Linked DNA regions of Homo sapiens: all the other regions are linked to region 4. The links come from fine-mapping of genetic effects on gene expression. A gene starts in region 4. Each other region holds a variant in brackets. All regions are shown on one strand. Distances are from middle to middle.

Evidence for each region. PIP is the estimated chance that this variant, and not a neighbour inherited with it, causes the effect. A credible set is the group of variants that fine-mapping cannot tell apart.
Region 1: its variant is the best candidate, but not a certain one, in a credible set for the expression of ZHX2 in monocytes (CEDAR, PIP 0.64).
Region 2: its variant is the best candidate, but not a certain one, in a credible set for the expression of ZHX2 in whole blood (INTERVAL, PIP 0.54).
Region 3: its variant is the best candidate, but not a certain one, in a credible set for the expression of ZHX2 in prefrontal cortex (ROSMAP, PIP 0.75).

The regions. Positions count from the first base shown.
Region 1 is chr8:122,979,388-122,986,959 of GRCh38, reverse strand. No RefSeq gene overlaps it. Among named protein-coding and RNA genes, the nearest start is that of DERL1, 59 kb to the left of the region's middle. The variant ACAAAC/C (reference allele first, on the strand shown) is at 3,954.
Region 2 is chr8:122,958,363-122,965,934 of GRCh38, reverse strand. The region is part of intron 3 of ZHX2 (zinc fingers and homeoboxes 2); the gene reads right to left. Among named protein-coding and RNA genes, the nearest start is that of DERL1, 80 kb to the left of the region's middle. The variant C/T (reference allele first, on the strand shown) is at 3,783.
Region 3 is chr8:122,828,313-122,835,884 of GRCh38, reverse strand. All of the region lies in intron 1 of ZHX2 (zinc fingers and homeoboxes 2), which reads right to left. Among named protein-coding and RNA genes, the nearest start is that of ZHX2, 50 kb to the right of the region's middle. RefSeq lists an enhancer at 1-114. The variant C/T (reference allele first, on the strand shown) is at 3,695.
Region 4 is chr8:122,777,755-122,785,326 of GRCh38, reverse strand. It overlaps ZHX2 (zinc fingers and homeoboxes 2), which reads right to left and starts at 3,672. Exons shown (of 4, transcript NM_014943.5): 1 at 3,381-3,672. It overlaps ZHX2-AS1 (ZHX2 antisense RNA 2), which reads left to right and starts at 3,723. Exons shown (of 2, transcript XR_007061082.1): 1 at 3,723-5,154; 2 at 7,130-7,443. RefSeq lists silencers at 1,681-1,760, 2,541-2,670, 2,891-2,960 and enhancers at 1,821-2,355, 3,011-3,060, 4,228-4,727, 4,728-5,229.

The DNA of each region.
Region 1 (7,572 bases), 200 kb before region 4:
ATGCCTGGCTAAATTTTTGTATTTTTAGTAGAGATGAGGATTCACCATGTTGGCCAGGCTGGTCTTGAACTCCTGACCTTAGGCTTCCTGCCTGCCTTGGCCTCTCAGAGTGCTGGGTTTACAGGCGTGAGCCACTGTATCCGGCCTCTAAATGTCTTTTACAATTACAATTGGTCTGTTCAAACCAGGATCCATTCAAGACCACATATCACTCTTGGTTTTTATATAAGAAAAATCTTAAATTTATGTACTACTCTTGGTTGCTAACTTTATGTGAGTTATATAAATCCTTGTTTTATTTATATCCTTCCAGTCAAAATTTCCTTCTTTCCCACCTCTAATATTTATCAAGAGCCTTATGATGTGTTAGATGTTGAAGATATAAATATAAATAAGTTAAGATCTTTACCTTATGTCACATGGATGAATAACTATAAAACAGTGTGTGAGAATTCTGCCAGAGACAGAGACTGGGCATTCCATCACCTTTTTCAACTTTCTTCAAGTGATGAGGAGAAGAAATTGAAAAATTGGTTTAGGGAGGCAGTTGAATTAAGCAATCACATAAAGCAAAGTTTTACAGGTCATGATGTGGATTTCAAATTCCTTTAGTCTCCTGGTCCTTCATTCTTAGGAGTAAACCGGAGTTGATCTTTAAAGTCATTTGATACCCGCGTTGTTTAAAGTCTGTTTTTATTCCTCTTCAAGCCTCCTTGAAAGGCTGTCTCCAGCCCATGCCTCCCATTCCCACTCAGCCTTCCATGACCACAAACATGAAAGAAAGACTCCTACAAAGGAAGACTATCCACTCTCCTGGACTGGAAGTGTTTGAAGAAATCCTCAGGGGATATAACACCCGGGGCACATATGCCAATATGTCGGCCCGTTTTGAACGTATGTGCTCCCCTGTGCTGTTACCAATGTTGTAATTAGTTCTGAGCCATGACAACCACTTGATGAGTGGCTAGAATATTGTGGTTAAATGTCTGGGCTTTGGTTTCAGAGAAATCTGAAACCAATCAGTTTCAATCCTGGCTCTGACACTTACTAGATATGTGTCTTTGGGCAGATTCCTGAATCCAGTCTTGAAGAGTGCTGAAGTCCAAACTTTGTTCGTCTGATGTGGAAAATTATGCAGTTTCCCAAGGCAGGGGATCAAAGTTTTAAAGTTCTATGGGAGTGCGTCCTTCCTGGAGCCCTAGCCATTCTTACACAATATGCTGATGATCTGGCACACAAGGGGGGCAGAAGCACCATGTAAAACTTCCTCTGGAACACACATGGATTTAAAAATCCCTTGGAGAGAAATGTATCCTGCTAAGGCCAACCCAGCTCTCAGCCTGGTTCTCATGTTGACCCTGGAAGGTTCACCCACCTCTGTTGGGTGGAGATGGCGTCCTGGGAGCCTAGAAGACTGTCCAGGCACAGAGCAAGGGCAGCTGTCTTTCCAGAGCAGGTGGAAACTTAAATGACCCCAAACAAAGCGTGTGTGTGTGTGTGTGTGTGTGTGTGTGTGTGTGTGTGTGTGTTGAAACAGATGGCATTGTGGATGTAGCTTGTCTGAGGAGAGATACAGAGTGGTATGTTCTGGGTTTGGAGAAATATTCCTCCACAGCCTACTTTTCAGTTTTCCATTCTGTTGTACATTGCTTTTTAATTAAACACTGTTTATGGACACAGATGCTTCTTCAAAGTTCCCCAGGGGGGCTTGCTGACAATCTTTGCTCAAAAGATTTAGTGCTATTGCCCAGAAGCTTACTTAACTCCCTGCTGTCCTAAAAACTCCCCCAAAGGCTTTGGTTGAGGATAAAGGGAGGAAACTGAAGCCTGGATACTTTGCAGAGGTGTGTTGGTCCAGGCTCCTACACAGGAGAGTCTCGGAGTCAGAACGAACTGTTCATGGTCATCTGGTCTAAACCCTCTCATTTTTCAAATGAGGAAACTGAGACTCAATGAGGGGAAGTGACTGATTTGTCCAGAGTCATGGAACCCATGAATGGTAAAACAGAGGCCAGAATTCAGAGCCCATGAATCCTGGGGTGGCCTTACCATGGATAGTTCATGGGATGATGGAAAGTCACATGTCCTCTACTGTTTAACTGTGTTTCTGACTACTCCAGGGTTCAGAAGAATTTCTACCAGACAGAGGACAGTATGGGCAAAAGTGGGGATGATTATGGGCCATGGAAATGGGTGATGAGGTGTATCCTATTGATAGCAGGATATGTTTTCAGCTGGTTTTCCAGTTGCATTTCACGTGTACTGCGATGACTTTCTTGTGTAGCACTATTGAAGCTGTGACCCCCGTGATCCAGTCCTAGAAGCAGTTATAGAGGCACAGTTCAAATAAGCCAAAACTTCATTAAAAGAGAATTTATTTTTTTCCCTCATCTTTCTGAAAGGACATTCAACGGGCTTCCATGTTTAATCCATGGCATGTCTTCATCCTCTTTGGATTCTTGCCGGGTTTTCTCATATCCCGCACTCTGAAGGACTTTATTAACCAAAACTTTGAAGAATTATTTCTTTTGCCAGCAGCCCCAGTGACTTCTACTTCCTGAACATCCTCTCTTTTCTCTCTCCATTTTTTATTAGGTAGATTGATTAACCTTTTTCTCAGTGTCCTTCTACTTCTCATCCCACCTCTCTGGTGCTGTCCTTCTTTGCTTACTCTGACTCTGCACTCCAAAAATCCAGGCAGTGCTATGTTGGTGAGATGGGGGAGAAAGGGGAATCGGGCTGTCAGTGAGAGGTTCTCTTGGGCAGGTGAGGTGAAGGGAGGAAGTTTATGAACATTAATCTATTTTATCCTATCATGGGTATTTTCCCACAAGTTATTTTTTTTTTCAAATACCTTACTATCATTCCCTAGTCTAATTAAACTCCTAGTATTGCTGGTACAGATGTATGTATACAACTCACGATTGAATGTATGCTTGCTTTAAATGTTAGCGTACAAAGACAAAGACCTGGTCCTTGGCTCATATGGTGGACAGACACACAGACAATCATAATTGCCACACCAGCAGTGTTTAGTTGAAACAGGGAAAGAACAGGGCCTTAGAAGACTTCTCCAATGGGGAGGGGTATGTGTATTGCTACTAAAAGAGAGAGGGAAGGGACGCTGGAGAGATGAAAACTGATGTTCAGCACACCTTCTGACCAGGAGGATCCTCACAGAGAGAGAAGATTAAACAACTAAACCCATATATGATTAGAACTAAATAAATCCTATCAGTGGTAATTGCTCCAGGAATTCAGAGGAACAGAGTTCCCTGAGAGCCAGTTGGAATATATATGTCTTTCTTAAATCTAGTTTCTCTGTCACCCCGTATTCACCTTTATTTGGTCTGGTAGAACTGGAAGAATTAGGTAGAATTTAGGCAAGAAAAGGGGAAGGCATGAGCATTCTAAGAAGAGAAACTGCATCAACCTAAGGGATGTTCGTTGATAAATGAGCAGACCAGTGAGAAGGAGAGGTTGAGTAAGGAGGAGCTGGAGAATAAATTTGGAGAGAAGAATCCGATTCCAAGGTTTGTGACACAAACTTAGCTATGGGAAGCAAAGTCCAAGTTAAAGAACCTCAAATGTATGTTTTTTCACTTTACATCTTTTTTTTTAAATGATATTTTACTTATTTTGAGAAATCTCAGGCCGAACACGGTGGCTCACGCCTGTAATCCCAGCACTTTGGGAGGTCGAGGAGGGCGGATCACTTGAGGTCAGGAGTTTGAGACCAGCCTGGCCAACATGGTGAAACCCTGTCTCTACTAAAAATACAAAAAAAATTAGCCAGGCGTGGTGGTGTGTGTCTATAGTCCCAGCTACTCAGGAGGCTGAGACAGGAGAATCGCTTGAACCTGGGAGGTGGAGGTTGCAGTGAGCCGAGATCATGCCACTGGGCAACAGAGCGAGACTCCATCTCAAAACAAAACAAAACAAAACAAAACAAA[ACAAAC/C]AAAAAAAGAGAAATCTCAAATCACTTTCTGATTTCCCATCATAAAAACTCATAGCATAATTCTTTGGCTATTTTTCAGGTTCTTTCCAAGTAGATAAGCACTTCTGTTTTTTTCTTACCAGATTTGAGTCAGGGTGACTTGATTGTTTTCCAAAACTCGTTGCTCAAAATTGATGGTTTCTTCTTTTGTTACACATTATAGACTGCTTGTTGGATTCCTATTATTTAAAATTCTGAAATTGTATATACCCTTATTTATACTTCTTGTGCCTTCCTCTGATTTATCCACTTGTCAAACTCATCCCTCAAACATAGATCAAATTTCCTTGTGTAGGCAATGTATATGCCTGACTTATCTTACCATGGCAGTTAGTATAGGGATAAATGAATGCATGTATGAGAGAAAGGATTTATATCTATCTAGCCCAGGGATGGCAGATAGATTTGTGTTAATTATGAGTGCATCTGATTGCATGTGTTAAACAAATTCACTGAGTGATGGGTTAAACAAATAGGGGTTTACTTTTCTCACATATCAAGAAGTTTGGAAACAGGAAGCTGCAGCACTTGGTCATGGACTCTAAAGTCAAAAAGAACTCAGTCTCGAGATCACAAAATGCATACAAGACAAGAAAAAGTAAAGAAGGAGAGTAGCACCAACTATTCAGTGGCCTTCTGGTGATGTCTCACTAACTACACCTAGCTGAAAGGGAAGCTGGGAAACTGAGTTTCTCACCTGGGCATGGGTATGCTACTGTCTGCTATAGTTTGGTTTGTTTGACCCCTCCAAATCTCATGTTTAAATGTGATCCCTAATGTTGGAGGTGGGGCCTAATGGGAGATGTTTTGGTCATGGAGGTGGACTCGCCATTAATGGCTTGGTGCTATCTCTGTGGTGAGTTCTGGCTCTATTAGTTCCTCTGAGAGCTGGTTAAAGAGCTGACATCCCTCCCCACTTTACTTCCTCTCTCTTCATGTGATCTCTGCACAGTCAGCTCCCCTTCACTTTTTACCATGAGTGGAAGCAACCTGAGACCCCCACCAGAAGCCAAGCAAATGGTAGCACCACGTTTCTTGTACAGTCTACAGAACCATGAGCCAAATAAACCTCTTTTCTTTATAAATTACCCAGCCTCAACTATTCCTTTATAGCAGCACAAGTAGATGAAGACACTGCCTGAGGAATATCTTGGTTCTGTTGGCAAGGAAGGATAGGGGGATGGATATTAGTTGGGCAACCAATGGCATCCATCACATATTTCATCTCATGTTCCAAGGTTAATAGATTTGTGGTGGAGCATTGTGTTAAGTATCATGAAGACCTGACCAAGTCCAGCAGGCGAAGGTAGTTTGATTGATCATTAATATCTGCTGTGGGTGTGGAGTGGGGTATGACGGCAAGCTTAGTGTGCATTTGGCATCTTTTGTCCATCCCTTGTCCCTTCAAGCCAGGCTTTCTGCATCTTCCCTTGTTAGTTTTTCTAAACCCTGTTCACACCTTTATAAAAATCCTTTTTAATAAACCACTCCCAGTTTACCCATTGTAAGTGTTCAATTTCTTTCCTGCAAGGATCCAGATTAAGGCAGTCTGTAGTGCTTTGGGGGCTTGTTATGGATGAAGGTTTCAGAATTACTGGTGAACATTTTGGTCTCCCTCTGATTTTAAGTTTCTCAAAGTCAAGATCAGGATGCCTCCTACACTCTACAGGATACTCAACTTGCAGCATGTCATGGGATGTGCTCATGAAGTGTTTTTTATTCATTTTTATCGATCAACCCCCTTCCCCTGCCCAGGGCAATGATAATTTTTCTGCTGTGCTTTATACGTATGTCCAGCTGTGAGATGTTGGAGACAGGAGCTTTCAGCGATTAGAAGGAGGGAGCTGACATCTTTCCTGGTTCTCTCTGGGTTGCATTGTGACAGGTCAGTGAGAGCTATCCTTTCCAAGCACTGTTGGTTGGAAGTGGCTGTGCACCAGGTGGCCTAGAAGGACAAGTGTGTCATCAGCTGGTGGACCATGCTCTTTCTGCCCTGTTCTTCCTCTGCCTCCCTGTTCCCAGGCCCTAGGGTCTACCCTCTGCAGACAGGCCAGTGATGTATTATTAGACTTGCCACCCATCCCTTAGTGTGCTGGAGGAGGTTGGGGAGGAGCCATTTAGTGTCTTCAGAGCTGGGTTTCTTCAACTTTACTGAACATACGAATCATCTGGGGATCCTGTCAAATTACAGAATCTGATTCAACAGGTCTGGCATAGGGGCCAAAGATACTGCATTTCTAACAAGCTCCCGGTGATACCTATGCTGCTGATTCAGGAGCACATTTGAATGGCAAGGACTAAGAACCGCACCATCCAATACTGAAGCCACTAGCCAACATGGCTATTTACAATTGCTGTCTTTCCTTTCATTTTTATCTCATAATTTCATTAACCCACCAGAACTCTTTGAGTTTCTGGTGACAGAAACCCAACTCAAAAGATTTGAAGCTTAAGCTAAAAAGGAAAATATGTTGGTTTTTATGAAACTGGAAAGACAAGGAGTTGGCCTTAGGAATGGCAGGCTCCAGGGATTCACATGATTATCAACATTGTCATCACCACTGCCGTCATCACCGCCACCATCATCATCCCTTGCTCCATCCTTTATTGCTCCCTTGCCTCTTGAGTTTGTGGCCCCATTCTCTCTACTTAAGGACTGGCTTCCTCTCCCTGGCAGGGGCTTTGGCCACTGGTGGTTCCAAGCTAACATGATTGCACTTACCATCTAAATGGGAAAGGAAGCTCTTCCTCCCAGTATCTGACTTGGTGCTGTTTGGGTCTTATGCGTGGTACTGTACCTGTCCCTGAATAGGGTACTAGAGTGCCGTGGGTCACTGCTGTAGATCGGAGAGTGGGTCACCATGATGGGAAGCCCCAAGAATGAGATGAGTGGAGGGAGATATGAGTACATCCTCAAGGAAGAGAAGGAGTTCAAGAGGTATAGGGCAGACAGAAGCAGCAGCAGATGGTCGCTCCACCCCACCACTCTCTTCCACCTCACCAAGAATCCTGCCCCTCTATTCCCCCTAAGAACCTCCTTCCTAGTTTCTGCCACTCTTTAATCATTTCCAGTGGAGGAAGATATCTTGACATATTTTGCTGGGTGTTTAAAAGAGCACACCCATCTTCCCATTGTATTTTCATCCCCATCAATTATCAAGGCTTTCTCTTTGGGTCCTTCAAGCATTTGATAGCATCTCATACCATCTTGCTCGAAAGATTTATTTAAATTGCCTTGGAGTGGCAAGCTTAAGCACAAGGGTGGTAAATGGCAGGAGGGGAAGGCAGCCACCTGTCAAGGGAGAGAGTGTTGGAAATGTTCATTAATGGGAGGGAGGACAAGACAGTATGTGGGTGATGAGGTCTGGGGAAGGTTCAGGTGCTGGGGGCACAGGCAGGGAAGGCAGTGCAGGCAGGAACTGGGAGATGAGTTAGCCACAGCAACTTTAACTTTTTTTAAAGAAAAGTGCAGGTTGGAATTTTGGAATGTTTGTGGGTTAGGGAAGAGTTTGGGGGTAGAGGGTGCTAAAGACAGCGTTGGCTACATATGGCAAAGTCTCCAATGCCAGAAGCAC
Region 2 (7,572 bases), 180 kb before region 4:
AAGCAACAACAGTTAAAAAAGACAAAGAGGGACATTATATAATGATAAAAGAAGTAGTTCAATACAAAAATATTACAATCCTAAATGTATGTGCACATAGTACTAGAGCTCCCAAATTTATAAAACAATTACTACTAGACCTAAGAAATGAGATAGACAGCAACTCAATAATAGTGGGGACTTCAACACTACACTGACAGCACTAGACAGGTCATCAAGATGGAAAGCCAACAAAGAAACAACAGACGCAAACTACACCGTAGAACAAATGGGCTTAACAGATATTTTCCGAATGTTCTACTCAACAACTGCAGAATATACATTATTTTCATCAGCACATGGAACATTCTCCAAGACAGACCATATGATAGGCCACAAAACAAGTCTTAATAAATTTAAGAAAATTGAAATTATATCAAGTACTCTCTCAGACTACAGTGGAATAACATTGGAAATTAACTCCGAAAGGAACAGTCAAAATTATACAAATACGTGGAAGTTAAATGATACGCTCTTGAATGATCCTTGGGTCAACAATGAAATCAAGATGGAAATTAAAAAATTATTTGAACTGAACAATAATAGTGATGCAACTGATCAAAACCTCTGGGATACAGCAAAAGCAGTGCCAAGAGGAAAGTTCATAGCATTAAGTGTCTACAATCAAAAAGTCTAAGAGCACAAATAAACAGCCTAAACTCACACCTCAAGAAACTAGAGAAACAAGAACAAACCAAACCCAAACCCAGCAGAAGAAAAGAAATAACAAAGATTAGAGCAGAACCAAATGAAATTAAAAGAAAAAAACAACTCAAAAGATAAATGAAACAAAAAGCTGGTTCTTTGAAAAGATAAACAAAATTGATAGACCACTTGTGAGATTAACCAAAAAAAAAAAAAACAGAAGAGAGAAGATCCAAATAAACTCAATTAGAAACAAAATAGGAGATATTACAACCAATACCATAGAAATACAAAAGATATTCAAGGTTTCTATGAACACCTTTATGAGCATAAACTAGAAAACCTAGAGGAGATAAATAATCCTGGAAATATACAACCTTCCTAGATTAAACCCAGAAGAAACAGAAACTCTTAACAGACAAATAACAAGTAGCAAGACTGAAAGAGTAATAAAAAAATTGCCAACAAAAAAAAGTCCAGGACCAGGTGGATTCACAGCTGAATTCTATCAGACATTCAAAAAAAAGAATTGATACCAATCCTACTGAAACTATTGCAAAAGATAAAAAAGGAATCCTCCCTAAATCCTTCTACGAAGCCAGTATCACCTAATACCAAAATCAGGAAAGGATGTAACAAAAGAAAAATAAAACTACAGACCAATATCCCTGATGGACATAGATGCAAAAATCCTTAACAAAATACTAGCTAACTGAATTCAAAAGCATACCAAAGAGATAATCCACCATGATCAAGCGGGTTTTATACCAGGGATGCAGGGCTGGTTTAACATACACAAGTCAAATGTGATACACCACATTAAAAAAAAGTGAAAACAAAAATCATATGATCATCTCAATAGATGCAGAAAAAGCATTTGACAAAATCCAGCATCCCTATATGATTAAAACCCTCAGCAAAATTGGCATAGAAGGGACACACCTTGAGGTAATAAAAGCCATCTATGACAAACCCACAGCCAACATTACATTAAATGGGGAAAAGTTGAAAGTAGTTCCCCTGAAAACCGGAACAAGACAAAGATGTCCACTTTCCCCACTTTTATTCAACACAATACCAGAAGTCCTAGCCAGAGCAATCAGACAAGAGAAAGAAATAAAGGGCATACAAGTTAAGGAAGTCAGACTGTTGCTGTTTGCTGACTATGTTGATTATATACCTAGAAAACCCTAAAGACTCATCCAAAAAGCTCCTAGATCTGATAAATGAATTCAGTGTTTCAGAATACAAAATCAATGTACACAAATCAGTGGCACTACCATACACCAATAGCAACCAAGCTGAGAGTCAAATCAAGAACTCAACTATTTTTATAACAGGTGCAAAAAAACAAACAAACAAAGAAACAACAACAAAAAAAACCCAACTTAGGAATATACCTAACAAAAGAAGTGAAAGATCTCTACAAGGAAAATTATAAAACACAGCTGAAATAAACCATAGATGACACAAACAAATGGAAACACATCCCATGCTCATGGATGGGTAGAATTAATATTGTGAAAATGACCATACTACCAAAAGCAATCTATAAATTCAATGCAATTCCCACCAAAATACCATCATCATTCTTCATAGAACTAGAAAAAACAATCTTAAAAGTCATATGAAACCAAAAAAGAGCCCGTATAGCCAAAAGCAAGACTAAGCAAAAAGAACAAATCTGGGGGCATCACATTACCTTACTTCAAACTATATTACAAGGCTATAGTTACCAAAACAGCATAGTACTGGTATAAAAACAGGCACATAGACCAATGGAACAGGATAGAGAAAATATATATAAAGCCAGATACTTACAGCCAATTGATCTTTGACAAAGCAAACAAAAACATAAAGTGGGGAAAGGACACCCTATTCAATAAATGGTGCTGGGATAATTGGCTAGCCTCATGTAGAAGAATGAAACTGGGTCCACATCTCTCACCTTATACAAAAATCAACTCAAGATGAATAAAAGACTTAAATCTAAGACGTGAAGTCATAAAAATTCTCCAAGATAACATCAGAAAAACTCTTCTAGACATTGGCCTAGGCAAAGAGTTCATGACCAAGAACCCAAAAGCAAATGCAGCAAAAACAAAGATAAATAGATGGGACTTAATTAAACTAAAAAGCTTCTGCACAGAAAAAGAAATAATCAGCAGAGTAAACAGACAACCCACAGAGTGGGAGAAAATATTCACAAACTACGCATCTGACAAAGGACTAATATCCAGAATCTACAAGGAACTCAAACAAATCACCAAGAAAAAACAATCCCGCATAAAGTGGGCTAAAGACATGAATAGACAATTCTCAAAAGAAGATATATGAATGGCCAAAAAAAACATGAAAAAAATGCTCAACATCACTCATTATCAGGGAAATGCAAATCAAAATCATAATGCAATACTACCTAACTCCTGCAAGAATGGCCATAATTAAATAACCAAAAAATAATAGATGTTGGCATGGATGTGATAAAAAGGGAACACTTTTACAATGCTGGTGGAAATGTAAACTAGTACAACCACTATGAAAAACAGTATGGAGAGTCCTTAAAGAACTAAAAGTAGAACTACCATTTGATCCAGCAATCCCACTACTGGGTACCTACCCAGAGACAAAGAAGTCATTATATGAAGAAGACACTTGCACACGCATGTTTATAGCAGCAAAATTCACAGTTGCAAAAATATGTAACGAGCCTAGATGCCCATCAACCAACAAGTGGATAAAGAAAATGTGGTATGTATATACCATGGAATACTACTCAGCCATAAAAAGGAATGAAATAATGGCATTCACAGCAACCTGGATGGAGTTGGAGACCATTATTCTAAGTGAAGTAACTCAGGAATGGAAAACCAAACATCATATGTTCTCACTCACAAGTGGGAGCTAAGCTATGAGGAAGCAAAGGCATAAGAATGACATAATAGACTCTGGGGACTTCAGGGGAAGGATGAGAGGGGGGTCAGGGATAAAAGAGCACACATTGGGTGCAGTGTACACTGCTCGGGTGATAGGTGCACCGAAAGCTCAGAAATCACACCTAAAGAACTTATCCATGTAACCCAACACCACATGTTCCC[C/T]CAAAACTATTAAAATAGTTTGGAGTGTGACTGTGAGAATGAGATGAGTCAGCACATGCACAGTGCCTGAGCAGGCCTGGAACAGTGAGTGCTCAGCAGTGCTACCCTGTGTCACAGCCCCAGACACCCCCAGCCCAACCCCTCCTGAGATGCAATTAACACCCACTGGCATGAACATGTGGGGCCCCAACAGAAAAGGTCAACTTGGAAAGGCAAGAAGCAGGGGGCCAAGTTCTTCTCCATATAGAGAGCAGTAAGCAAGTTGAGATGCAGTATCTATTGGTACTAATGCTAGAACCCTGCTCTAGGGGTGATATTGTTAGGCTTTGTGTCCCCACCCAAATCTCATCTTGAATTGTAATCCCCATAATCCCCATGTGTCAAGGGAGAGACCAGGTGGAGGTAATTGAATCATGGGGGTGGTTTCCCCCAAGCTGTTCTCCTGATAGTGAGTGAGTTCTCATGAGATCTGATGGTTTTATAAGGGGCTCTTCCCTCTTTCCTCAGCACTTCTTCCTGCCACCTTGTGAAGAAGGTGCCTTGCTTCCCCTTCGCCTTCCGCCATGATCGTAAGTTTCCTGAGGCCTCCCCAGCCATGCTGAACTGTGAGTCAATTAAACCTCTTTCCTTTATAAATTACCTAGTCTTGGGCAGTTCTTTATAGCAGTATGAAAACAGCCTAATACAAGGGGCTTTCATTTATATTATCTCACTTAATCCTGACAAATACAGACAACTGTTTGTAAGCATTATGAACAGAATTATATCCCCCCTAAATTCATATGTTGAAGCCGTAATCTCTAAGGTGACTGTATTTGGAGATAGTGCCTTTAAGGAGGTAACTAAGGGTGGGGTAATTAAGTCCTAATCTCATAGGACTGGTGTCCTTACAAGAAAAAGAAGAGACACCAGCCATGTGAACACACAGAGCAAAGACTATGTGAGGACACAGTGAGAAGGTGGGTGTTGGCAAGCTACGAAGAGAGGCCTCACCAGAAACTAACCCTGCTGGTGTCCTGAGCTTGAACATCTAGTCTCCAGAACTGTGAGAAAATAAATTTCTGTTGTTTAAGTGACCCAGCCTGTGACATTCTGTTCTGGCAGCCTTAGCTGACTAATACAGTAAGTATTAAGGTTATAGAAAGAATAAAGTAAAATGTATAGGCATGTGGGTGCTCTAGAATTTTCCACCATCCAGCCTCCATTTTCCACTAGGGCAGATGGGTCTGAATGCCCAGGACATTTGCAAGTTGGTTTTCCTTTTGCTCCTTCCTTGAGTAGCTCAGAGGGCATCAAACTTTCTCTAGGGTTATGGACAATGAACCATGTCATCTCCTTTACTGGTGAGACAGAGGAATTTCAAGGGAAATTTTGATTATATGTGAGTCCACCTAACGCTCTGGCTTTTAACCTCTGCACTTCTGTGAAGTGTGAACCCAGGCAAGTCATGCCCACCATGGCCACCTTTCAGTTCCCCTTGAGTATGTTGTTTCTTCTGTCTGGAATATTCTTCCCCTCCTCTCTGCCCAGCATGCTCCTGCATGTTGGTCTAACCCTTTGGTTTTCAATCCATCCATTACTTCTTCTTCTTATTTACTTATTTATTATTATTTTTGAGATGGAGTCTTGCTCTGTGCCCCAAGTTGGAGTGCTGTTGTGCGATCTCGGCTCACTGTAACCTCCACCTCCTGGGTTCAAGCGATTCTCCTGCCTCAGCCCCACAAGTGGCAGGGACTACAGGCATGCACCACTATACCAAGCTAATTTTTGTATTTGTAGTAGAGACAGGGTTTCACCATGTTGGCCAGGTTTGTGCGAAGTCCTGACCTCAGGTGATCTGTGTGACTCAGCCTCCCAAAGTGCTGGGATTACAGGTATGAGCCACTGTGCCTGGCCCCATTACCTCTTTAGGGAGTGTCCCCTAAACCTTAAATCTGCTATTTAAACCCTCAAATTCCCATATTCTATACTCTAACGGCACCAAAGAACATGTCAGTGTAGCAACTTTCATTTTTGTTTGATTAAAGATTGGTTAAAACTTCATTTCCCATTAGACCAAGGGCTCCATGAGGGCAGGGACATGCTGGGCACACTGCCTTCCAGAGCCCGGCACACTGCAGACATTCCACAAATACTTGATGGATGAATGAACCAAATCACTTATTAGGAATGTCTCTGGGCTAGTGACTTCATCTCCCTGGGACCTACATCCTTCCTCTGAAAATGAGGGGGCTGGATTTCATGGTGGCTAAGCCTCCACAAGTCACCCAAAGCACAGTGAGAATTCCTAGGGTGAGAAGCTCCAGAATTAAGTAAGTGGAAGTGGTATCAGTTAACTCCCTGTTAGGCATGAGGGAAGTCAGACTAACGGGCAGTCCCTGAGAAGCATCACCAGTAAATATCTGGTGACAGATTCTCCAACAGGCCTTTCTCTTGAGCTTTTCATACACAGGAAGCAAACTGTATCCAATCCCTCTCCTCTCGCTGCTGTCAACCATTGGAGCTAATGAGTGATGGGAAAAAAATGAGGACAAGCAAAAGGATTGAAATACCAGATCCCAACTATCTTTTAAAATTCTCTGGTTCGTTCAATAAACCGTTATTCAGCATCTGCTCTGAATCTAAACTAGGGATTCAGAGATTAATGATATATGGTCCCTGCCGGTAAGGGTCTGGTACAGGAGAGAGGGAAACAGTCGACAACAATATTTTCATTCATTCACTCATTAATTAATTAGTTAATTAATTCGTTCGTTCATTCATTCATTCAAATATCTGCATTTGGACAGCTAATCTGAACAGAGTGTGAGGGCATACCTCTTCTGGATCTTAAATTGTAACCAGAATGCAATGCTTAGCAGCCTTAAAAATTTTAACCAAGCCGAACCATGGAAAATACCTTTCTGACATTTCACAATTTTTTCCTCTTCTCCAAAGTCATCCCTAATCATCAGGAGTTGGAAACTGTTGACAGAAATCAGGAGGCAGCGAAGGTGGTGGCTGGAGCTTTGGAGTCAATTTTAGACACTGGCTGAGTGAACTCTGGCAGGTTCCTGAGCCTCAGAATTCTTTGTTTAAAATAAATGGGAAGGTGGCTTGCACATGTAGGTTGGTGGGAAGGTTCTGAATCAGACAACATGTTGGAAAAGCCACCTCTCCCCCTCCTAGCTCCTCTGGTTTCTGTGTGCACTACTCTCATGAAACAGGTGTTTCTATGTCCATTTCTCACCTTTATTAACTGAGATTAGGTAGGGGCTGTGTCTTGGACATTCTGGCAAATCTACACAGACTAGCACAGGGCCTAGCACAAAGAGGGCTCTCTAAAGTTCTTGCTGAATGAATACATTGTGGATTAGTTTCCACTCCCACACAAAATCAAGAAATGACCACACTCTGTTTGTTCTGGGCTATGCTGGTGGTGCCACTGTTGGAGAGGGCAGGGCCATAGTGGCTGGGGTCAGGCACTGGCCTGACAGTTGAGAGGTGGCCTCCAAGGTCTTCCAGCTGTTGGCTGAGGAACATAAGGCAAGTTACTCATTTTCTCTGGCCCTCAGTTTTGCCCTCTATAAAATGGGGACAAGGCTGTACCTACCTCACAGGGTGGGCATGAAGTTGAAGTGACTTAGTAGACGTGCTTAGAAGGCAGCTGAGCACACAGTGGGTGTCAATTAATGGGAACCCTCACTAGCAATAGTAACGGAATATTCCATTTGACCAAACATCAAGGCTGATGTCTGACAATGTCTTGCTCAAGTACGTTGACTCATTTTTCTGAAAAAATAAGTCTAAT
Region 3 (7,572 bases), 51 kb before region 4:
TAATGGGTCCAAATGGCCCGCAAATGAAACATTCAACTTTACAATTTTAACTGACTTAAGCAATTATTGCTGACAACTGAAGAAATGAGAAGTTCCTTATGTCCAGGCCTTTTTATTCTCAAATCACAACCCAACCTCTGCAATTCTTTCTTACCTGTTCAAATCCTTCTCCATTCTTGCCACCCTGATCGCCTTTCTCTTCCCGACCCTACCTCTTTTTCCTCATTAAATCCAGCAGACTGCTGTCCACCCCTCCCAGCCCTTACCTCTTCCTCTCAACCATCTTCTTTAACCCCTGCAAGCCTCCTCGTTGTCTTCTCAGCTGCCATCTTCCCAGTCGCCATCTTCTCAGTAAGCAGTATCCACTTCTTTTCCTACACCGTCCCCTACTCAGGACAATTCTAGTATTGCCTGTACCCATTCTCCTCCCCCACCGCCCTCTCCTGAGGCTTGTAAACCCATCCCACCACCTTACGCCCCTATCCTCCACTGCTTATCAACTCAACCACCCTTCCCCCTTCAAACCCTCAGCAGAAACCACTTCCAGCTTCTTCCTTCTCTCCTGCCCTTACTCGCTCGGGCGCCATCTTTGGCCCATGCCCCGCCCTTACTTCAGCGCCGGTGCTAGAATACCCCCTTCAGAAAGTAGTAGAAAATGAAGGTATTGTTAGAGTTCATGTTTCCTTCTGCCTCACTGATCTCTCTCAAATTAACAAAAGATTCGGTTCATTTCCAGAAGATGCTACCTCTTATATTAGAAAATTTCAGTACCTCACCCAGTCTTATGAACTGACCCGGCATGACCTCTAGGTTATCCTCTCTTCCACCCTCACCCCAGAAGACCAAGACCGTATCTGGACTGTAGCTCAGGCACATGCTGATACCATTCATCACCAAGCTCCTGCCCAGCCTACTGGTGCGGAGGCAGTCCCCAACCAGGACCCCCACTGGGATTATCAAGACAGGGCCTCTGGATGCCACCGTTGAAACCACATAATTGTGTGTCTCCTTGCAGGACTCAAAAAGGGTGCCCATAAAGCGGTAAACTATGAAAAACTTTCAGAAATCACCCAAGGTCCTAATGAAAACCCAGCCCTTTTTCTCTCTCATTTAACTGAAGCCATTAAAAAATATACCAACCTAGACCCAGCTAGCCCAGAAGGAACCACTATCTTAAACCTTCGGTTCATCTCCCAATCCACCACCGATATTCGGCACAAGCTTCAGAAGCTTGATGACGGCCCTCAAACCCCACAATGAGACCTTCTAAATTTAGCCTTCAAAGTCTTTAACAATCGTGATGAGGAAAGTAAAAGGCAAAAACAGGCAGAGTTTCGAATGCTTACCTCTGCCATCAGGGGCCCTGCAGGCCCACGGGGCCATAGCTCCACACGGAAGCCTCCTAGCAATCCACCTCCACCTGGCGCCTGTTTCAAGTGCGGCAATGAAGGTCACAGGTCCAGACAATGCCCAAACCCAGGTAAGCGCACCAGGCCGTGCCCCCTCTGCGGAGGACCCCACTGGAAGTCGGACTATGAGCAGCCCCAGCAAGGACCGCCCCCATCCCTTCCGGAGCCGGCCAAAACCTCCTACTTGGATCTCATCGGCCCTGCCGCTGAAGACTGAGGGTGCCCTGGAACAGACGCCCTGGCAACTACCATCACTTCATCCAAGCCAAGGGTAACCCTGATGGTGGCAGGTGGGCCGGTATGTTATTTTTGAATTAATACCGGGCAACCTACTCTGCTTTACCTAATTTTTCAGGACCCACCCAGTCCTCCCAAGTCTCCGTTGTGGGAATTGAGGGACAAGTCTCCAAACCCTGAGCCAGCCCTCCACTTTTCTGCTCCCTGCACACCTTTTCCTTCACTCACTCTTTTTTTTTTTTGAGACGGAGTCTTGCTCTGTCGCCCAGGCTGGAGTGCAGTGGCGCGATCTCAGCTCACTGCAAGCTCCGCCTCCCGGGTTCACGCCATTCTCCTGCCTCAGCCTCCCGAGTAGCTGGGACTACAGGCGCCCACCACCACGCCCGGCTAATTTTTTGTATTTTTTAGTAGAGATGAGGTTTCACCGTGTTAGCCAGGATGGTCTCGATCTCCTGACCTCGTGATCCACCCGCCTCGGCCTCCCACAGTGCTGGGATTACAGGCGTGAGCCACCGCGCCCGGCCCGCTCACTCTTTCTTAGTCCTGCCCTCATGCCCAACTCCGCTCCTAGGCAGAGACATCCTTTCAAAACGCCACACTACTCTCCACATCCACATTCCCCATAGTACCCAACGCATCAACCCAGACTCCTCTGGGCCATCTAACTTTCTTCTACTCCTCCAACCTCCCACCTTAAAACATGCAACTTCTCCTTATCCGCCGCCCGTAGTTAACTCCGCAGTTTAGGATACTTCCACACCTTCAGTCACAGAACACCACACCCCCGTCCGCATTACTGTTAAAGAGCCCACCCAGTTCCTATCACAGAAGCAGTATCCCATTCCTCAGCAGCTCTCATAGGCCTAAAGCCTATCATTTCTCACCTCCTCACCAGTCGCCTACTCCGCCCAACAAACTCCCCTTTTAACACACCAATTCTACCTGTTAAAAAGCCACATGGAACTTAATGCTTAGTCCAGGACCCCAGGCTCATTAACCAAGCTGTACTCCCGGTATGTCCAGCAGTTCCTAACCCATATACTTTACTTTTCACGATTCCCTCCAATACCACTCATTTTTCTGTTCTAAACCTTAAACAATGCCTTTTTCACAATTCCTTTACACTCGAATTCCCAAAACCTCTTTGCCTTTATGTGGGAAAATCCTGACACCCACATTTCACGTCGGCTCACCTGGTGTGTACTACCTCAAGGTTTCAGAGACAGCCCCCACCTCTTCGTACAGGCCCTTGCTTGCGACCTTTTTACCTTATCCCTAAAACCGTCCACTCTCCTTCAATGTGTTAATGATCTGCTCCTGTGTAGCCCCTCTCAAAGGGACTGCAACGCCCATACTATCTCTTTTAAACTTCTTGGCAGAACGGGAGTATTAGGTCTCCCCTAAGAAAGCACAAATATGCACCTCCTCGGTCACCTATCTAGGCCTAGCTCTTACCCTGCAAACCCGAGGGCTCACAACCGACCGCATATCCCTCCTCCAGTCCCTCCCGCCTCCGCAAACTAAGCAAGAAATTCTCTCTTTTCTAGGACTAGCAGGATATTTTAGGCTCTGGGTTCCCTCCTTCGCTCTACTTGCCAAACCGTTATACTAAGCTGCTAAAGGCCCTCTCCATAAGACTTCAAACCCTGCACAGCCTATTCCCCAACCTTTCTGTCTGCTCCAGAAGGCTCTCACCTCAGCCCCCGTGCTCACTCTCTCAGACTTCACCAAATCTTTCTCCCTCTATACCGACGAACGGCGTGGAGTTGTACTGGTGTTCTAACCCAGTCTAAGGGACCCACCCTCCAGGTTGTTGCCTACCTCTCCAAACAGCTTGAAGCCACAGTTCTCAGACGGCCTGCCTGCCTCTGAGCATTGGCGGCAGCTGCTGTCCTCACCCTTGAAAGCCTAAAACTATCTCTCCAAGCCAAACTAACAGTTTATTCAACCCATAACATCAAAGACAAGCTAGCTCACCGCAGTGTACTAAGTCTCATCTCTGCCCCACGGCTCCTCCAACTGTATGCTCTATTCGTAGAAACTCCCCA[C/T]ATCACCGTCTAACCATCTCCCATCTAAACCCGGCCACGCTCTTACCTGAAGCTGCAACTGCCCAAGACCCTACACATTTCTGTGTAAACACTGTTCAAACCTTCCTTATACCTTTTCCAAACCTAACAGACCAACCCCTTCCAGATGCCTCCTTTACTTGGTTTTGAATGGCAGCTCCTTCCTACATCAAGGACACCAGAATGCTGGCTATGCTGTAGTGTCACCACCCCACATGCACACTATTGAAGCCAATCTCCTCCCGCTAGGCACCACCTCCCAAGAAGCTGAACTCATCGCCCTCACTCGAGCTCTCACTCTAGCAGCAGGACAACAGATCAACATATATTCAAATTCTCATTATGTGTTCCACATAGTGCACTCACACTCATCCATCTGGAAAGAACGGGGTATCCTAACTGCAAAAAACACTCCTGCCATAAATGGCTCTCTCATCAACAAGCTCCTTAAAGCTGCCAGGCTCCCGCAAAAAGTTGCCATCATTCATTGCAGGGGCCACCAAACCCCAGACAATCCTATATTGGCTGGAAATGTGCTAGCAGATCAGGTAGCCAAACAAGTGGCCCTACAACCCGTGCAAGGCCAGTTTCTGTCCCTGTCCTTGTTCTCTCCGCTTTACTCCTCAGAAGAAAAGGAGGACTTCCGAGCCCAAAACCTTCAAAAGCAAGGACCATGGTATGTCAAAGAAGGGCGCTTCGTTCTTCTTCACTCTCAAAGCCTTCCTCACCTCCAAAGCCTCCACAAGTCTTTCCATGTTGGTTACAAACCTCTCCTGTAACGTCTCCGCCCTAGCCTCACTTGTCCTCACCTTTCCAGCCATGTTTGATAAATTACCCAGTCCTGCTCTATCTGCCACTCAGTGTCATCCCAGGGCTCCCTCTGGCCGCCGCCTTTTCCTACCCACCAAGCCCGAGGCCAGGTACCTGGGCAAGATTGGCAGGTAGACTTCGCTCACATGCCGCCCGATAAACGGCTCTGCTATCTTCTAGTCTTTGTCTGTACTTTCTCCAGATAAGTAGAAGCATTCCCGACAACTTCAGAAGCTGCAAATATTGTCACACAAACTCTTATGCATATAATTCCCTGTTTTGGACTCCTAACATCCATCCACTCTGGTAACGGGCCCGCCTTCATCAGCTAAATTACCCAAGGCGACTCTACATCCTTAAGAATAAAGTAAGTTCTCCACACACCCTACAGGCCTCAATCGTTAGGCAAAGTTGAAAAAATTAACCCTGTCCTTAAAGCCCAACTCACCAAGCTGGCTCTAGAAACCCGCCAGTTGTGGACAAAACATCTCCCTTTTGCCCTCATGAAACTGTGCAACACCAAAAGCACCCTCTTTTTATAGTCCCTTTAAAATCATGTATGGCCAAACTTTTGTCTTAGGGCCTCCATCCTTACCAGACTCTGAGCCACGCAGTAATTACCTCCCCTCCTTAATCCAGACACGGTGTTTCATTCATAAAGCAGCAGATGAGGCCATGCTTCTCCCTGTCGACACCTCCTTGTCCTCTCAACATAACTGTCTTGCAGGCACAGACATATTTCCAGACAATGCAGGCGATGCTCCTGCTACAACGACATGGTGAATACCAACCCATCTCTCAAGAATACCTAAAAATTAAGGTTTTCTTTTTCCAACGTGCCCACACCACCCCCTATGTCCCGCCTGAAGTAGTTATTAAGAAAGTTGTCCCTTTTCCCTTTTCTATAACCAAATAGACAGGAATGTAAGATTCTCCCCGGGGCCTGAAAGCTTAAGGGGATGAATAACTCCTCCCTTCTCAGGCCCAGTCCCAAGGTGCAAGGCTACTTGTGCCAGCAGTGTGCGCCAGCAAAATAGCAGAAGCAGGAAGAAGGCCAGCTGGAAGACACGTACCCCTGAAGATCAAGAAACAGGCCATCTGGGTACAACGTAGCAGTTACATCAGACTAGGACACTTCCTGTTTACAGGACACTATAAATCCTTTGCCCCGTCCTCACTTGGTGCTGACGCCATTTTAGGCCTCAGCCCGTGTGCACCCAGGCTCTCATTAAAACAGCAAGTTGCTCCACACCGCCTCCTGTTGTCTGTCGGCACACGCTCAGGGTTTGAACTGATACAAGAACCTTACAAGTAGGTCTCAGCCTCATTTTACCCAGCCTCCATTCAAGATGGAGTTGCTCTGGTTCAAATAGCTCTGACAATATTGAAAACTTAACATGCTTCCGTCCCTCAATGTGGCACATTCAGACTCTCCCTAGTGTCAAACCCACTTCTTCATCACCAACAGGGCTCCACTTCACAATCTGCCTATGCCATTCCTTCCACCAGTTGAGGGAAGGCCATTGCTACTTGTAAATGTCTCTCCAAACTCACCTTATATGTGCAGAAAGCTTGTCAAGATGAATTCTGGCTGGGGTCATTTATTTTATATCCTTTTGGCACTCTGAAAATTCAGAACACTCAACTCTTACAGCTATAGCTTTTCAACTGTTGTCACAGAAACTTGCTTGTGTATTTGGTCTCTACCCTGTTCCTCAGCACTTGAAGGTGGGACCAATCTTTCATGTGTGGTTCCTAACAGTGCTCAAATAGAAATATGTTTTTCCCCAACTCTTACAATGAGGTGGGAGAGTTTTCATATTGTTCTTATTCTCATTTTCTCCCTGATTTGTATGGATGTAGGTACGTCCATGTCATTATAAAGAGAATATAAGCACATTAAATAAACTTTGAAAAGTAAAGAAAAAACTAGCATAGTTCATTACCCAACTCTAAGCATTGTTATAAGTTCTTGAAGCTTCTGTGACAGTAAAAGTTAACAAGCCTTGTTTGATGCAACTTTTGCAGAGTTGAACAAATGATTTTGGATTTGCAGATTTGAAGTTGGAATGTACCATAAGATAGCCTTGGTAGTTTAGTTTAGCTGTGATTAAGAAAACACATCCTTCCTAGGTTGATGAATCCTGGCTCAGCCATTTACCAGCGGTGTGGCTTTAGGCAAGCTGCTTGATCTGTCCATCTTTGGGCATATCTGTATGCCTTCAGAAAATGTTATTCCACTACACATATGTTACATATAGTCCTCATTTTACATAATGTCCCATGCAAGCAGCTACCCTTACTATTACAGAGTCTTCATAACCTAACTTCAAATTGTTCTATAATATTCTATTTAATAAATGGCTCAGAGTTAAGTAAATGTTTTCTTTTTGGTGAAATGTAGTGTTTTAATAACTGAAAAAAAGATCAATTTCTTCAATTTGTAGTGGATAAATAAATGAATTATTATCTGCCATCTCCTGGGTACTCTGTGTAAAATAAAATAAAATAAAATAAAAACCTACAACACCCTGGGTAGAGCCCAAACCGGTTGTACTTCATTTATATTCCCAATGAGAACAACCTAGAATGAGCCTTCCAAGAACCCCTTTGCAGGCACGATCCATCAGCCCTGCGAAGCGTGGGAACACACCTGCGATTAAATGAACCACTCATTCCCTCAGAGCAGTCCCTTCTCAGTGCCCATGGCCACCAGGGCTGCCGCCAGCACATCCCCCACAGCCCATGGCCCCGCCTAGTTATTACACAGAGCATGAGGAGCTCTCTGGTCAACAAGGTATGTCACAAGGACAGCGTCTCCTGCCATGGGTTTAGCTGCACACTGGTAGATGCATTCGTGGGCCGCAGCTCTCCCTGTCTTCCTGGGTTTTGGTTTCTCTTCTGTTACTCTTATCCACATAGTGACCACGTAATGACCCTTATGCTCAGCCAGCATAAGAATGCACCCTCCCTCCAGTCTCCTGGTGTGTGAGTGAGATCCTCTTCCTCCATATCACTAACACACACACGCACATGCACTGTACAGATAC
Region 4 (7,572 bases):
ATCTCCCTTTACCCCTCACCCCGTTGTTGTCTGACACAAAAAAGTCCCTATCTGGTTAAGTCACTGGTAGTCAAGAGTCTGCTGCTAGCAGCCGAATGCAGTGATATTGGCTACACCTCTGGACATTGTTCCTCTTCATTCATGGGGCAGTTCAGCTGCTCCCACCTCTAGGAGATCCTCTGTGATCCCCTCAGAGCAGAAGAATCATGCCTTTCCTTGTGCTTCCACAGTGGTTAGTTTTCTCAATCATAGCACTTATCTAAGCCTGCTTGATTTGGTTTAATGAGTGCTTCCCCGCAGTCGGCTCAAACTCCTAGAGGGCAGGGGGTGTGTATCCCACCAGCATCTCCATAATGTCTGGAGCATGCAGTGCTTTGCGTTTCTGCCAGGGGGGCTCTGTCTCCCCAGCATTTCCATACATCTGGTTATGCGCTCTGCATTGCAACAGCAGAGTGTGTGTGTTCTGGGGGCTGCCACTCCGCTTACTAGCTGTTTGGACTTGGGCAAGTTAGCTAACTTACCTGGGCTTGTGCCTCCTCATCTAGAAAAAGGAGAGAATGAGAGTACTTACATCAGAGTTGTCATGAAGACAAAATAGTCTAGTCATAAGCACTTGGGATAGTGCCTGGCATACAAAAATGCTTAATGGCTATGGGTTCTTATTAGTATAATGAACATTATAGTTGCTGAATGAATAAATAAATCAACACACAGTTGCTAAATAAATGAATAAAGGAATAAAATCCAGGTAAATTCTGAAGTTCGGACCTCAGGACAGTGGCTACTGTTCCCTCTTTTCTGCTGGACCTGACCCTTTACTTTTTTATTCTAACTGTGACGTCGTGTATCTGAATGCTGCTACAATGGACTGGTTAAGGCTATGAAGTTAGGCCTGGATTTGCTTTTTGCTGTGTCGCTCAGGCAAGTTTCTTCACCTCTTGGAGCCTCTGTTTCCTCAACCATAAACGGAGGATAATAGTAGTACTTAGCTCACAGGATTGTGGTGAGAATTAAATGATAAAGCACGTAAAATATACAGCATTGTGCCTCACACACCATAACAGTGTTAGAAACTGTTATCAAACATTGCCATGATTATTTTTGATAAGTGTACAGCATCCCACCAAATCACATGGTCCTGATGTGGATGAGAAACGCCGGGTGGGGCCACCTTTCAGCATGTCAAGATACACTGCACTTACATCACAGGAATACCCTTTCTTCAGTGCCAACAAACAGTGGTGTTTTCCCCCTTCAAATGGACATTAGTTGAGATAGCTGATGTGCCCCAGAATCTTGGTTTCTTGCATTTTCCCCTGAAGCACAATCTTCAGGTGCATCCTTTAGCTGACAGCAAACCTGGCTAGAAGGAAAGGTACAAGTGCGCAAGAGAACAATCGCGGAGCAGAGCATTTAAACAGCGATGATATTTCCACACATCACCAGTCCAATTATTGTCAGTGACACATTTCAGCCTTACTTGTAGATTTTTTCCCTTCTGGCCTTAAAAGAAGCTGTGTATACAGCTTTACATAACTTTCCCTTTAAACTTAAACCTTTATGGTAGTCCCATTCAACCACTTGACAGCTCCATTAATCTATTTTTACTATTAAACATGCCATTTTACAAGATATTTATTCCACTTGGTCGTCATCCAAACGCTTTTTGACATTACTGCCCTGGGAGTGAACTGCTTAAACTCGCTGCCCTCATAAACAGAAAATCACCTTTTGACTCAAATCTTGAAGAGCTCTCAGAACCTCACCCCCTTCACTTCTACAGGCATTAATTTCTGCCATATATAAAGGAGAGAGTGAGTAAGTGTGTGTGTGTGTGGTTTTAAGAGGGTAATTGTGGGAGGTCTGGGCAATTCAAGAAGTGCTGGGGGAAGGAATCCTCTCCTCTAACTCCATTCTGCTCATCGGGGCCTGCCTGAGACCTGGAGATCTGGTAACTTAACAGAGAGAAAGTGATCAGAGAGCAGGTTGGGGAAGAACTCCAGGGCCTAAAAGGCAGTGTCCCAGGGGGCCAAGCTGAGCAACCACTCTTTAAAAGGGGAGGGGTCGAGGGAAAGTCCTTATTCATCGACTTCTCTCCTTCTCCACGCCCCAGACAAACAAAAGGCCACCGCGAAACAGTTGAAGGTAGAGACCTACTGGCTTTGAAGACTATCAATCAGGTGGAAACCTGAACAAATCACAATTTGGCTTCCTCATCAAGTTTTCTCCCCAGCCTGACAAACCCTCCTCCGCCGCCGCCTCCACCTCCTCCTCCGCCTCCCAGGCTCAGCACAGCTACGAGGCCAAAGGGACCGTCCTGTGATGCCTGCTGGTTTCCAACTTTCCGCTCATCTTCGTCTCCGCAGCCTCCTGCAAAGCGGCTGGGAAAAGGGCAAGTTTGCAAAGCCGAGGATACAAGTCCTGGGGAAGCCACAAAGAAGCTGCAACACCAACAAAGATTAACCTCTTGTGGGGCAGACGAAAAGCGCCAGCTGCCGTTCAGGGGGGCGAACGTGGGCTCGGGCTGGCAGAGGCTCCGGCCAGCTGGCAGCGGACAGCAGGGCCGGGGGTCCCGCGGCCGCCCTCGGCCCCCCGCCCCGCGCGGACTCCCCCTGCACCTGAGCGGGGGTGAGGACAGCGCCGCGCTCCGGCCCTGCCCCCGCCAGGTAGCTCGGCTGCCGCCCGCGCTGCGCGCCCGCTGCCTGCAGCCGCCGGGAGCGACGAGAGCAGAGGCAGCCTCGGCCCACGGCGTCATGCTTCCTGCCACCACATTACGGCGAATCGTCACCGGGAGAGGGGAGCGAGGGGAGAGGGGGAGGGAGGGGAGCAGACACACGCAGCCCCCCGCCTGCCAAAACGCGCGGAGACGGGGCCACGTCCCGGTGGAGTCCCCGCGGGACCTGCCCCGTTTGCACAAAGCGCCGCAGTTTGGCCAAGAAGGGAGGGAGACGGCCACGAAATAAATAAATAAAAACAGTCGGGTCTACGTAACGCCCTGTCGAAAGCGGACGCCATATTTTTTTGTGGCTTATGTCGACATAGGGAAACGTAGACATGTTTTTCCTCCTCCTCCTCCTCCTCCTCGCTCTGGCTCCCATTTATCCAAACTTGTAATCAAAACTCTTAAAAAAAAAATCTTCTTCCCTCTCTGTATCCGCTCATTTCCTCCCACCCGCAAAAAGAGCCTGCACACCCCCCCCCTTCCGTACCCCCCTTCCAATCACAAACCCGGCCAAGTCCCATTAACAACACATTTTCGGGAGCCGCGGCGGCGACGGCGGCGGTGGGAAAGTTGGGCTGGAGTGGCCGGCGCCCGGCGTGCGGGGTTTGGGGCCGGCGGCGCCGGCTGGGGGGCTCCGCGCCGAGGCGAAGTTTCTTACCTGCGCTGGGGCTGTGAACGCGGGGACCCGGGCTGGGAACGCGGAGACGCGGCACGGGCGTTCCAAAATGGAACTCTGCTGGCTCCCCCCACCCACTCCCCACTCCCCACCGGGCGCCCGGCTCGGGCTCCGTGGGAAAGAGGGGGAAAGCCAGCCTGCCAGCCAGACAGACAGACAGAAAAAGCCCCCGTACGGAGAACGATGGCCAAAATTTTTAAAAGAAAAAAAAAAAGGAAAAAAAAAGGGAAAAAAAATGCCTCGATCAGTGGGGAATCTACGCCAAAACCCACATGATCTGTAACGTCAGCATGCGTATTTGCATACGATACCACCACCCGAGCTGCCACCCGGGCTCGGGTTCCGCAGAAAGTTACAAAGTGAAATTCAGCCCCCTCCGGAGACACCGGCGAAATGTCATTTTTCAGGCAGGAGCTGGGGGGGAGGCTAGCCCTAAAGGCGCTGGTTACTGGCCAAGGTAGGGGGGCAGTAAATTAACTTAAAAGTCTGAGCCCAGTAACGGACTCGGTGGAATTTCTGCGAGAAGAGGAGGGGGAGGCGCGAGCGAGATCATTGAATATTAAGCACGACCCCGCGCGGCGGCCGCGGCCAAACCGTCTCCGTGCAATACCCATTTTCTTTATGAAAAGTTCAAGGTGTCACTGATGAGCTCAACAAACTGTTGATCTTGACCACGTGGAGTGGCGGACCGTGGGACCGAAGGGCGCGCTTGCAGGCCCGGCTCTGGCGGTACCCGGGCCCCGGGACCCTTTGCGTGGGACTGTGCGCGGGTGGGGCCACCACGCACCCTGGGCGCTGCCTGCGCCTTGGCCCGGCTTCAGGCTCAGGAAAATAATAATAACGATTTTAAAACTATGTTGAGCGAGACACATTTTACTCCCGGAATGATAATGAGAAGGCTCGGCGTAGGGAGGGGAAGAAGGAGCCCCCCACTTATATAACGACTTGAAGTTATATCACTTTTGCTTGGGGAGATTCCGGGATTTCCGCCCGCGCCAGGTCTGAGGCTGGTTAAAGATCTTCAAACTTTTTTCCCTTAAGAGCCAATAAACAAACAGACGCCCCAGGGGCCGACTTAAACTCTGGTAGAGCCCGAGTTCGCTGGAATTCTCAGATTCGAAGAAATGCACACGCCTGCGGTGCTCGCAGAGAAGTCCCTCGGAAGCTAGGCGGGTCGCTTTCGCAACTGGGACTCCAATGTTCCCAGTGGGAGCGGAGCTCTCACCGCGGCAGCCCCCAGGTTCCCCTAGGCGCCTTAGAGCAAAGGTGGCGGGGGATCGCGCTGCCCTTCGCCCGCCGGCTCGGAACCATGAACTTGTATTCCGGGCGCCGCGCTCCTGCCACAGTGCTCGGCTAAAGAGCTCTAAGGAATTCGGGATCTGGGTACACTTCGGGATCTCAGGCGGCAACCTGTCTGCGCCGCGCATTCCTGCCCAGATGTACCTTGTTTCCCCCTGGGCTGGCCTGTGGACTCTTGGGCAGCTCCCGGGCGGGGACGAGGGGATGCGGTCTGGGGGCTAGTTTAGAAGCTTCGAGCGCAGCGAGAAAACAAAGGGAGCCTGGGGCTGGGAGGCTCTGCGGAGTCCCCGCCCGCCCTGCAGATTAGCAGGCGCGTCGCGTCGGGGCTTCCCGGGCAGCTCTGCTCTGGGGAATTAGAACGAACTCTAGCGGCCGTTTGCAACTCGGCTGTGGGCGCGAGGGCATCAACAGGTGGCCGTGTGCAGCGGAGAGGCCAATGGCGAGGACCCGGACTGGGGTGAGGACGGCTGGCCTTGGGGCTGACTGGGTGGCGGATGCGCTGGGTGACCTTTTGGCTTTTTCATTTCCGAGGCCGGGGAGAAGGAAGTAGCTAAAAGGTTTTTGTAAGTTCTGCCCTAGGGCTCTAATTTCTGACATACCCCTTGACTCCCCAGAAATCCTTTGCAACAAAAATTAAAACAGCTCATATGCAAAACTTTCTTAATGGCCTGCACCTGTTTGTTCGGTTATTGCTGATGTAGGGTCTGTTTGTTTGCATTTTAACCGCCCATAAAACAAGATTCTATCCTGGGAAGGAGTCTCTTGCGTGATGCTCGCGGACCTGAAAGGCGACCTGGAGGGGCTCTTACAGGATTCTGTTAACTTCTTGATGACTGTAATCCAGCTTGGGCCACATCTTTCTCAGCCTCATTTGGTACCGGCTAAGAACCTAATTTACTTGCCATCAACATCAGAATTTACCGCTGCCTGATCTCCTCCCAACCTCTGCCTCACCCAGGGTGAACCAAAATTGTAAAAAGAAAAGAAAAAAATATGGGACCCTCCCCCCATTCCCCCGCCTTGTCCCGTCCCGCCGGCCACACCAACTTCAACATTTTTACATCGCTTACCTTATTATGCCCCTTGCAGGCTATTCCACGCCCTGCCCCCCCCCCCTTTAAAATAAGTCTAGTTCTGTCTGTTTCCATGGAAATTACCCAAACCTTAACGAAGCTATTCCTATTTTGAGGCTGCACCTCCTCTGGATGATCAATCACTTAGGAGGGTTTTCTATAAGCCAAGTTTCCCTTGCTGCCACCTCACTGCCACCTGCTTCTGGCTGGGTGACAGATTGTATGTAGGGTGGAATGGGCCAGGTGGGAGGGAAGCCAGGTAACCCTCTAAACAGTCTGCTGGGTTCTCATATCTTCAGAGCACTTGGATCTCATGGACACTAGCAAGGATGAGGGGCTTCTGATGTGTTGCAGTGTTTTAAAATTGTTCAGAGTTTAGCATGGACTGAACTTGCACCATATAAAGAGAAAACAATGAGGAATAAGACAAAGGTGGCTTTTGCTTTATGTGGTATGATCCCTGTTTGCTTGAAGTATACTCATGGAGTAGACAGACCGTTATCTGACAGTATTTAGGAGCTTCAGAATCAATAATGTTGGACAAGTAAATGTTCAGCCAGGAAGTAACGTATGCCACTTTCACTTACAACTCATTGGTCAGAACTAAACACAAAGTTAACTGTAAAGATCCATGGAAGTATTGTGTGCCTGGAAATGGAGAGAATGGGAAAGATTTGCACTAATATGATAGCACTAAGGACTATCATAAATAATAATAGCAGTTCACAATTATTGATCATTTACCATGTGCTGAGCCTTTTATATGTATCATCTCATTGAATCATCACAAAAATCTATATTTTGTCTTTATTTTACCGATATAGAAACTGAGACTTAAAGAGCTTAAGTACTGTACCTTGCTCGACATCACACAGATGCTAAGTAATGGAGTTGGAATTTAAGCTTAATTTTACCTGCTTCCCAGAGAATAGACTTTTAAAACACTGTCCTCAACCACCTTTGGACTTAATTGGTCCCCTGTTGTTGGGCATTGGGTAGTTTCAATTTTATTCCAATGAACAACCTTGTGTCAGATCTTTTGAATCATCTGCGATTACTTCCTTAGGATAAATTCCTAGGTACATATTTGCTTAGTTGAAATATACACACATTTCAAGAATAAAAACCTTTTGCAAAAAGTGAAAGCTTTAGGAGGTGTGGTAGTCTTCTAAGATGGCTTTTTTCAATCCTTTCCTTCCTTTTTTGAAAAATACATCACCATTAAGAGGTGGAGTTTACTTCCCCTCCCTTGGAATCTGGACTGGTCCTGTGATTGCTTTGGATGCAATGAAAGTGATATTCTGAGACATCTAAATCCAAGTCTTAAGAGACTGGCAGTTTCTGTTTCCTTCCTTTTAGGGTCCTGCTGCCATGCTGTGAGAAGCCGAAGTTTCATGGAGAGGCCACATGGAGTGAAAACAAAGGTGATAGGGACAATAGCTCCACCTGAGATCCTGATTAATACACAGACTTTAGCCATCTTGGATGCTCCAGCCTAATCGATCTCCCACTTGACTCTAGTCTCACCTGACATTATGTAGAGGAAAACCATCCAGCTCCACCTAGTCAACCCACAGAATAATGAGATGATCATAAGACTGTAGTTGTTTAACATTATTAACTTTTGGGGTGGTTTATTACACAGTGATAGATAAATAAAATGGGAGTTATTATCCGTGTCTTTATTTGCACATATATCTGAATATTTCAGATCTACTTCCCCCTGAACTCTGCAGGGTATAGGTAGCATTGTGAAATATTGGAGGCCAGGACAAGGGGTAGAGAGGCCTCTTGGTCCATGA